Linked DNA regions of Homo sapiens. The protein of the gene in region 2 interacts with the protein of the main gene of each other region in a biochemical or structural test. Each region holds a gene or a part of one and is shown on either strand. Other genes may lie near its edges. The genes, in order: SIRT1, STK4 and MAP1LC3B.

The links.
Region 1: of the proteins of STK4 (region 2) and SIRT1, one has a biochemical effect on the other in vitro, tested with the Homo sapiens proteins (one study listed by BioGRID).
Region 3: the proteins of STK4 (region 2) and MAP1LC3B form a complex in vitro, tested with the Homo sapiens proteins (2 studies listed by BioGRID and IntAct, with this or other methods).

The regions. Positions count from the first base shown.
Region 1 is NC_000010.11:67,908,533-67,912,155, reverse strand, and holds part of SIRT1 (NAD-dependent protein deacetylase sirtuin-1), read right to left. Parts: intron 2,901-3,623; coding exon 2,714-2,900; intron 1-2,713. UniProt on the Homo sapiens protein: NAD-dependent protein deacetylase that links transcriptional regulation directly to intracellular energetics and participates in the coordination of several separated cellular functions such as cell cycle, response to DNA damage, metabolism, apoptosis and autophagy.
Region 2 is NC_000020.11:44,993,998-44,997,670, reverse strand, and holds part of STK4 (serine/threonine-protein kinase 4), read right to left. Parts: intron 2,582-3,673; coding exon 2,414-2,581; intron 503-2,413; coding exon 365-502; intron 1-364. UniProt on the Homo sapiens protein: Stress-activated, pro-apoptotic kinase which, following caspase-cleavage, enters the nucleus and induces chromatin condensation followed by internucleosomal DNA fragmentation.
Region 3 is NC_000016.10:87,402,336-87,405,447, reverse strand, and holds the end of MAP1LC3B (microtubule-associated protein 1 light chain 3 beta), read right to left. Parts: intron 2,526-3,112; coding exon 2,351-2,525; 3' UTR 674-2,350; downstream 1-673.

The DNA.
Region 1 (3,623 bases), on a different chromosome or scaffold from region 2:
TGTGGTGAGGATTAAATGAGTTAGTCAAGTGCACAGAAGAGTTCTTGGTACATAAATGTTCTACTTAAGTAGCTCCTGATATAAAGAAGGTGAGCTGGGTACAGTGGCTCACGCCTGTAATCCCAGCACTTTGGGAGGCCGAGGCAGGCGGATCACCTGAGGTCAGGAGTTCAAGACCAACCCGACCAACATGGTGAAACCCCATCTCTACTAAAAACACAAAATTAGCCGGGCGTGTGGTAGCGCATGCCTCTAATCCCAACTACTTGGGAGGAGAACTGCTTGAACACGGGAGACTGCAGTGAGCCGAGATCATGCCATTGCACTCCAGCCTGGGCAATGAGGGAGGGAGGGAGGATAGGAGGGAGGGAGGGAGGGTGGGAGGAAGGAAGGACGGACAGATGAACGGAAGGAAGGACAGACAGAAGGATGGACGAAGGAAGGAAGGAAGAACGGACGGGAAGGATGGACAGAAGGAAGGACTAACAGAAGGAAGGATGAATGGAAGGAAGGACAAACGGAAGGGAGGGAGGGAGGGGAGGGGGGGAGGGAAAAAGTCATATAAACATATTCTACGCTATTATAAACCTGTTTCTTTTTTTAATTATCTTTGCAACACATCATACTATCCCACAGAAAGCTTTTGAAAGAAAAGTTTTTAAGGACCAGGCATGGTAGCTCATGCCTGTAATCCTAATGCTTTGAGAGGCAGAGGAGGAAGGATCACTTGAGGCCAGGAGTTTGTGACCAGCCTGGGCAACAAAGTGAATCCCGTTTCTACAAAAAAAAATTTAAAAATTTGCCAAGCATGGTGTGCGCCTCTGGTCCTAACTACTCAGGAAGCTGAAGTGGAAGGACTGCTTGTCCCCAGGAGTTGAAGGCTGCAGTGAGCTGAAACTGCACCACTGCACTCTAGCCTGAGCTACAGCAAGACACCCGTCTCTAAAAAATAAAAAGAAAAGCTTTTAAGCAGAGTGCCTTTGATTTTGCTTTAAGAAGAGCAACTCAAGAACAAAGAGATTTGTATATTAAATTTTCATGTTTCATTTAATTGCAAATTGTCTTGTATTCTACTTTAACAGAATTTCACAGCTAATTAGGTAAGACTGAGTTAACTGCTAAAGCCACGAGATATGGGATAGACACAAAATTGAAGAGCTTGACTCCATGTTTCTTCCAACTGTTTACTCTGGCTGCCTTGACTGCTGATGTGGGGTCTAATTCAATTCTCTGGCTAGGGATTTAATATTTTTCCTCTCCTCTTTCCCTCACTTATGAAAGGACACATCTGATGCAACTGAAATCTCTCTCTCTCCTCCTCTGATTCTAAACTAGAGGAGGAAACAGACAGTATGAGAATATATATGACAAAGAAATTTTCCTGAGAGTAATAAGGATTTAAATTTTATGTGAACACTTTTATATACACACCCTTTTGGGTAAACTATATCGACATATCACCGTTATGGCATGGCTGTTACTACAAGAATGAACCAATCATTCTGAGCCCCCAAATTCCATCTTACATGGTATGTTACACTTCTACCAAACTATACATTTGAATTTATTAAATGTGAAATCAATTAAATTTGAAAGATCAAAACTGTAATCAAAAAATATAAGGATAAAGGACCATTTCATAAATTAATTGATGCTAACCCTTGCAACATTAAAAACACATTCCACCAAAAAGTCTAAGTTGAACTCTACCTTTGTCTTAATTTTTCACATAAATTAGAAGTAGAGTTTAGCATTACTTCTGGGTTTGTTTTTGATTTTTTGAGACAGAGTCCCACTCTGTCACCCAGGCTGGAGTGCAGTGGCACATTCTCGGCTCATTGCAACCTCTGCCTCCTGAGTTCAAGCGATTCTCATGCCCCAACCTCCCAAGTAGCTGGGACTACATGTGCACACCACTATGCCCAGCTAATTTTTGTATTTTTAGTAGAGACAGGGTTTCACCATGTTGGCCAGGCTGGTCTCAAACTGCTGCCCTCAAGCGATCCACCTACCTCGGCCTCCCAAAGTGCTGAGATTACAGGCACGAGCCACCAACATTACTTGCGTTTTGACAACCCTCCACCCCCCATCAAAATGTCAGATTCACCAGTCTCAATGAACAATGCCACCTAAAAAAACAGTTCAGCCAGATGTGGAGGCTCGTGCCTGTAATCCTAGCTACTCAAGGGGCTGAGGCAGGAGGATCACTTGAGCCCAGGAGTTCGAATCCAGCCTGGGCAACACAACAAGACCTCATCTCTACTAAAAATAAAGAATTTCTGGCCAGGCATGGGGGCTCATGCCTGTAATCCCAGCACTTTAGAAGGCAGAGACAGGCGGATCACCTGAGCTGAGGAGTTCGAGACCAGCCTGGCCAACATGGTGAAACCCGGTCTATACTAAAAATACAAAAACTAGCCAGGCATGTTGGTGGACGCCTGTGATCCCAGCTACTCAGAAGGCTGAGGCAGAAGAATCGCTTGAACCCGGGAGGCGGAGGTTGCAGTGAGCCAAGATATGCGACTGCACTCCAGCCTGGGCAACAAGAGGGAAACTCCATCTCAATAAACAAACAAACAAACAATTTCTAAAATTAGCTCTTCACCACTCTTTCAAACAGAAGCAGAGTTAAGATTACTAGCGTCTATTATACAGACCCACAACCCATGACATTATATATAGAAATGTTCTCCAAAAACCATCACCAACTTACTTGGAATTAGTGCTACTGGTCTTACTTTGAGGGAAGACCCAATAACAATGAGGAGGTCAACTTCATCTTTGTCATACTTCATGGCTCTATGAAACTGTTCTGGTAAATTTTCACCAAAAAACACAATCTCTGGTTTCATGATAGCAAGCGGTTCATCAGCTGGGCACCTAGGACATCGAGGAACTACCTACATATTTTCAGATTTTGGTTGAGGTAGAGAAGCAAAGAGTAAGCCCAAGTTAGAAATAGTCAACATTTCCATACCTCTAAGAATACATTTCAGAATTATTAAAAAAAAAACAAAACAGAAAAGCTATGGATAAACAGCAACTGTCAATGATGGGTAGTTTATTAACATACTATGAAACAATGAAATACTATGCTCTTGTTATAATATCTATGTAGAAAAACACTTGACATTGAAGAGTCCATCATATATTAAGAGGAAAAACATAATGTGTGTATATACACTAAATGGGAATTGATCCTTTCAAAAAAAAATAGACATTTGTCAAATAAAATGATTCCATTTTATTTATTTGAGATGGAGTCTTGTTCTGTTGCCCAGCCTGGAGTGAAGTGGCATGATCTCAGCTCACTACAACCTCCACCTCCCGAGTTCAAATAATTCTCCTGCCTCAGCCTCCCAAGCAGCTGAGATTAAAGGCATATGCCACCATGCCAGGCTAATTTTTGTATTTTTAAGAGAGACGGGGTTTTGCCATGTTGGCCAGGCTGGTCTCACTTCTGACCTCAAATGATCGACCCACCTCGTCCTCCCAAAGTGCTGGGATTACAAGCATGAGCCACTGCACCCGACCAATGACTCCATTTTAATATACTATTCTTCCTCTTTCGTAATGACATGATTACCTCCATATATTGCTAAGCACACAGGACATATTTCTGG
Region 2 (3,673 bases):
GGCTGGAATGTAGCAGCACAATCATGCCTCACTGCGGCCTCAACCTCCTGGGATCAAGAGATTCTCCCACCTCCCACCTCAGCCTTCCAGGTAGCTGGAACTACAGGCATGCGCCACCACACCTGGCTAATTTTTTGCATTCTTTTTGTAGAGACATGGTTTCACCATGCTGGCTGGCCTCAAACTCCTGGGCTCAAGCAATATACCTGCCTCAGCCTCCCAAAGTGCTACGATTACAGGCGTGAGCCACTGCACCCAGCCTGCCTTATACTTCTTTACTATCTCCACGTAGGTGACCTCATGGCATCTTTTGGTCAGCAAGTAAATGAAATGGAGCGAGATGGCATCACAGGGTGATTCATACCTGCAGGAGCTGAGTGGCTGTGGCCCTCTGCTCAGGGCTCTTTACAAGACACTGTTTCACAAAATCTGTAAAGTTATCTGACCATAGCTCTGGTTTTCGGAATGTGGGAGGAGGATTTGTAGGAATCATGAAGATTGCCTGGTTAGAACAAACAAACAAACAAAAAGATCTGGTAAAATAAAAGTAATGCTCCAATAAAAAATACATGTGGAATTACATTTGAAGCTTGGTAAATGATTTTTCACTTACCCACTGAGAAGCTCACCCAAATTCCAACAAAAGTCTAAGCATCTGATGGTTAAAGAACCTGATATATCTCCCTCTCTCCTTTTCCCTCTCTCATATATGGGTCTTGTTCCCTAAACCTCACAACATCAATCAAGCTTTTTTATTATTATTATTTTGGTAACCACAGTACATTGCCTTTCAAAGTAGAAAGGCGAGACCTAAGAGTATCTACATCCTAAAGATAACCTTGACCCCATAGTTGTCAAGTTTCCCTGCCTCTTAAAAGTTATTACCACCCCCAGATGTCAGCAGCAACTACACAATAAGGTCATCAACCAGAAGTCCCAAAAATCACAATGGGGTCATTAACTTCCAAAGTAAGCTAAATCAACGCATGTGTGAGGGGGAAAAATTAAAAATTGGCCCACTACGTTGCAGTTACATTCTACTATGTCCAAAAATAAGACTATTATTTATTAAATTTCCAATTTTAAAAAAGCCATGTTTTTTGAAAAGTAAAACACTATACAAATAAGCAGCTTAAATTATATTCTTTAAATCTAAAATTGTAACTAGTAAATCTCCTCACTCCTTCTCCCAAAAAAGAGGGAGGACTTACCTTGGGAACATGAATTTGTGTAAGTCTTTTAATAGGAGAATTAATTAGTCAGAGAAGAGGAAGAGCTGTGGTAAGGAAGGATGGAGAGGACCACAGAGCCCCTGAGGAAGGCAGGGTTGGCGGGGGGGTGTATTACAACAGTGCTGTGATGAAGGGTTCTGGGACAGTTAAGCCTGGGAACTGCTTAGGGTGTGAGCACTGGAAGAGCTTCACTGGAGATGCATTCTATGGGCCCTTAACATTCTAGAAGGAGACAGGGGTTGGAGAGTACACAGCCTCCAGATGAAGAGGATATGGGGATCTACAAACCAAAACTTACAAATTCAAAACACCTATAGGGGCCAGGCAGAAGAAAGATAAAAAATGAACAAGGCTGGGTTTCAGTGACATGAGTTCAAAAATACAGTTTGCTTTCTTCTTAACACTATTATAAGAAAAACATTAGAGAAATACTGTAATAAGTGGCAGCTAATACTTGGTGACACAACAGGGAATCATGGAGACTGATAAAGTAGAGAGTTCATACTCTGAACCACTACTCAGCTCTAGTGAATGTTGACATGTTAAAATGTGGTTGTCTAAACTATTCAAAATGAGTGAGTGACAGACAGAGAGAGAGAGTAGCACAAATCAAACTAAGCATTTCTATGGCCTATGTCCTGCCAGAGGGCTATCAATACACAACCTCTGGAATGGAGAGGGGTGGAACACACTTAAATTAATTAATGACTACAACTAGAGTCAGTAGAGGTGTATCATCTATAGCGACACTTACAAATTTACACATAATTCATTTATTGTTTGCAACTTAAACAAGTAAGCCATTGAACTTTTTTTTTTTTTTTTTTTTTTTTGAGATGGAGTCTCACTCTCTCTCCCAGGCTAGAGTACAGTGTCACGATCTCAGCTCACTGCAACCTCTGCCTCTGGGGTTCAAGTGATTCTCATGCCTCAGTCTCCCAAGCAGCTGGGATTACAGGCGCACGCCACCACACCCAGCTAATTTTTGTATTTTTAGTAGAGACAAGGTTTCACCATGTTGGCCAGGTTGGTCTCAAACTCCTGACCTCTGGTGATCCATCCACCTCAGCCTCCCAAAGTGCTGGGATTACACGTGTGAGCCACAACACCTGGCTTGAACTTCACTTTTTAATGATGATCAGTAACTAACCACCCCACTGGCTTTCTGTCCACTTTCTTACCCTCATTGGATGGATATCAGCATAAGGGGGCTTTCCTTCAGCCATTTCTATGGCAGTTATTCCCAGGGACCAGATGTCTGCTACACAGTTGTATCCAATTTCCTGAATCACTTCTGGAGCCATCCAAAATGGTGTTCCTATCACTGTATTCCGCTTGGCCATGGTATCCTAAAATAGAAAGGGAGAGAGACTGACACTAAGCTTAAAACTACTGAGATGTCCACAGAGGAAGTCTACAGAGAAAAAAAGAAGAAAAAAAAAAAAACTACTGAGAAAAAGAGGCTTTTCCAACAATAAAAAAATGCCTTGTACTTGAAATACATATAAAAACCATACTCTGAGCATGATCAAGCAGGCATAGAAGAAATTCAAATGACAAAGAAACACAAAAAGATTCTCAATCAATTATTAAAACAAAAACTAAAATGACTGACAAAAAATTTTAAATTAATAATTAATGCTGATAATAGCATAGAAAATCAGGCACCGAAATAAAATGTTACTGTAGTATAAATTGGTACATTTTAGTACATAAGTTGGCAATATTTATTCAACTTTTAAATATTCATATCCTTTGATCCAAATCTATTTCTTGAAATCTATCTTATGTTCAAGTATCTCAAACGATATGCACAAAGACTGTAGAAATGTCTGTAATGGGGGAGATGAGGAGGAAAAGGAAACAACTCAAATGATCATCAAAAGATAGTAAGTTAAATATAATAAATAACCATATACTGAAACACCATATTAAAAAGAAAAAAAAAAGAAGATATATACCTTTTCCTAGCATGAAAAAAATGCACAACATACATTACAAAGCAAAAAAAAGTTGTACAATTATATATAATATAGCCCTGTTTTTGTAAAAGGAAAATATATATAATAATGATGATCATAACAATAATAAAACAATAACCAATAATATGAAACACTGTTATATCATAGCACAAAAAATCTGGAGTAATACACACCAAACCATTAATTATATCTAGTAGGCAGAATCACTAAAGATTTTTACTGTCTATCCTGTATACATCTGTAACATTCTGAAGGTTTATATGAGCATACATGTGCAATAAAAAAATTTTAAACTTGATATATAAAAAATAATATACAAAATATCTTAGTTTATGGGCTAAAGAAGAATATGTGGATACAGTACACATTACAGCAAATAACCACTTGCATACTTTCTCAGGATGGCATGGCCCTACTGAAAGAGAACCTCCCTACAGTTCCTATGCTTTAGCAAAAGAA
Region 3 (3,112 bases), on a different chromosome or scaffold from region 2:
CTGGTGATGTCAGGGAAGTGAGTGGGGCTACAGCACCCACGGGGAGCTCCGAAGACGGGACAAGGGACGCAGACGCTTCTATTGAGCAGCTGGCCTGGGAAGGCAGTTTTCTCAGGTCACTCCCTTGTATTTTTCAACAGACTTTTAGGTGCCTACTTAAACGGGAGCTGGGCTCAGAGTTCCCTAGATGATGAGGTTGGCCACTTTTTGTCTGGTCTGAGTGCTGAAGTGTGTGTGTGCTGCATCTGTACACGATGCCAGCAGCTCCCCACTGGGTCCCCCAAGGGTACACTTTCTCGACCACACACACATACCTAATAAATACTTATGGTGGTGGGTGGTTTACAGCAGTAGGTTGTTGGGTGTTATAGTCCCACAAAACATGTAGGTCAATTCGCATCCATCCTGATAGCCCGTGGCACGTGAGTTCTCAAGAGGACTTGGCTTTGTAAAGGCCAGACCTGGTGGCAGGGCCTTGGCCAAGGTGGAGGGTGCCCTTGACAAGGCAGAGGCCCTCGGAGGGCAATGCTCATCCACGTGAGTGCCCCCTCTGCACGAGAGGACCAGCCTGGATGCCCCTCCTTGGAAATACAAGGACCCGCTTGGCTTTGGAAAGTACAAACAGTGTGGGATCCAAGTCTCAAATACGGAATCCCATTAAACTGGGCTTTGATGACAGTTTTTAATTGTGCCTTTATTCAACTTAGTTCATTAAAAATGTTTTAAAGATCCTATAAATAAAGTGACCACTCACATGGGATATAGGTCACCCCTCAGCATGTTATTTTTTTTCTTAAAAAGCAGTATTTCTTACAGGAATCTTACTGATCACACGGTAGTTACAATAATGTCAGATATGATGTATACAGTCTAAACGAGACAGTCCAGTTAAGAATATACATAATGTAAAAATACACATATTAAAAGTTAGCCAAGTGGACAGACGCATGCGGGGGTGGGGGGAGCAGGTGACAGGAACTCCTTTAACAATCAGTAGAGGGCCCAGATGCAAAGAATCTGGTTTTCCCCGTTACAGTAAACAGCTTTCACTAACGTATACAGGTATTTCATACACATCTAAACACACAAGGGTAAGTTGTGACCTGCTACACATAGGGTCTAAAGTGGTGTAATTGTGATTTTCCTGTGATACTCCCAAGAAAACTATAAATAGTGAACCCCATGCAAGTACTGGGAAGCACTAGTCTTTTATCACAGGTTGAACCTGAGGAGGTTTAACTCTTGACATTAGTATCTGTAAAGAGCGTACGGCTCTTTTTGCTATGTTTTCTCCACAACTGACATGCACTTGGTGTGGGAGAATTCTGATGGCTGTCTGACCTAAGAGTGATAACTACTATTCAAAATGTGGGTACCTTTTCAGTAATACTGAGTTACACATTTAACATTAAAAAAACAAAAACGTGGATCATCCACAGCTTTAAGCCGGAAGGCAGAAGGGAGTGTGTCTGAATGTTAATGTTTTCAGTTATACTATTTTGTGTTTCTCCCGCTGTACTCCAGAGTGACACTGGTACACTGCTGCTTTCCGTAACAACACAGGCACTAGTTTGAACTCAGACAAAACCTGAAACAGAAGAAATGCCACTCTTTCTCCAGGGTCTTTTAAGAAACTCGATCAAAATTATAAATTATTCAAGTTTCCTTTTGAGTGGTGTCTTTATGTGTGTAACTATCTAGAGAACAAACCAAACCAGAAATGTCTACCCCTGCAAGAGTGAGGACTTTGGGTGTGGTTCTCTTAGGAGTCAGGGACCTTCAGCAGTTTACAGTCAGGGCCGTTTTCTCACACAGCCCGTTTACCCTGCGTTTGTGCCAACTGTGATGGCAAATGCGTTTTGCGGGGGTTGCGCTTCACAACTCAGGCCTAAAGATCCTCTTAGGGAGATCTCTCTAGCTGAGTAGAAAACTTCTACCCAAAAAGGCGGCGGGTTTTGTGAACCTGAAGAGAAGACTCAGGGTCTCTCTGAAAGCCTTTAAATTACTGCTGGAATTACAAGTTCCTATTAGTGAGAAAAGAGCATTAAAATAACTTGAAGGTCTATTTTATTGGCAACTTAGAATGCAAAGTATTTTATTTTTAAACTTTTAAAATTTGAAAACAAGCTAGCCTACATTAAATAATATAGTTTCCAAAGCTGAATGTGCTCACTTGGAGCTCAGTTTTTCTGCTTGAAACACAAACACAACTTCCTAACACTCCTAGGTGGGAACACTACTGTTTCATGATCTGTGATTGGATGAACTGATCGATCTCAGTTGGTAACATCCCTTTTTTTTCCTTGGTAAGGGTTTAAACAATTCTAGAAGAGCTGCATTTTTTCTGGTTTTACACTGACAATTTCATCCCGAACGTCTCCTGGGAGGCATAGACCATGTACAGGAATCCATCTTCATCTTTCTCACTCTCATACACCTCTGAGATTGGTGTGGAGACGCTGACCATGCTGTGTCCGTTCACCAACAGGAAGAAGGCCTGATTAGCATTGAGCTGTAAGCGCCTTCTATTGAAAGAAAACAACGTGAAGAAATATTGACAACAATACAAGAAGGATGAAGCATGTGTTAAAATATCACCCACTCTGATCGGTAAAATATAAAAATGTTCTAAATGCTCTTGAATCCAATACTTCTCATAAAGCACAGGACACTTCCTTTGATTATATTGACATGAGCTATAATCACTGAAAGATTACATATTAGGCTGATTTTAAACTAGTATACTGTCTGAACAGCTGTTAAACTGTCTAATATAAGAAAGCAGTTCAAATACAGTTTCTGAACTATTCTAAGATCTAAGCCTGTGCCATTTACTGCCACTCACAGAGTCTACATTCTCTTTAACTAGCTTTGCTGTACAATACCTTAATAACTTGTAACACTGATTTTAAACAGGAAACATCTAAACGATGTTATGATGAAAGAAACGGGCTCTGCAGTCTAGCAAGTAATATAAAACCTCAAAAAAAGAAACATTTTATAGTTTAAGTTGAAATTGTTTTAATCATAACTGAATCAGAACTGAATTCAGCTGAAAAATATTTTTTAAAGATTTTAACCAGAACTAAAGATTTAACTGTAAGTTTCATAA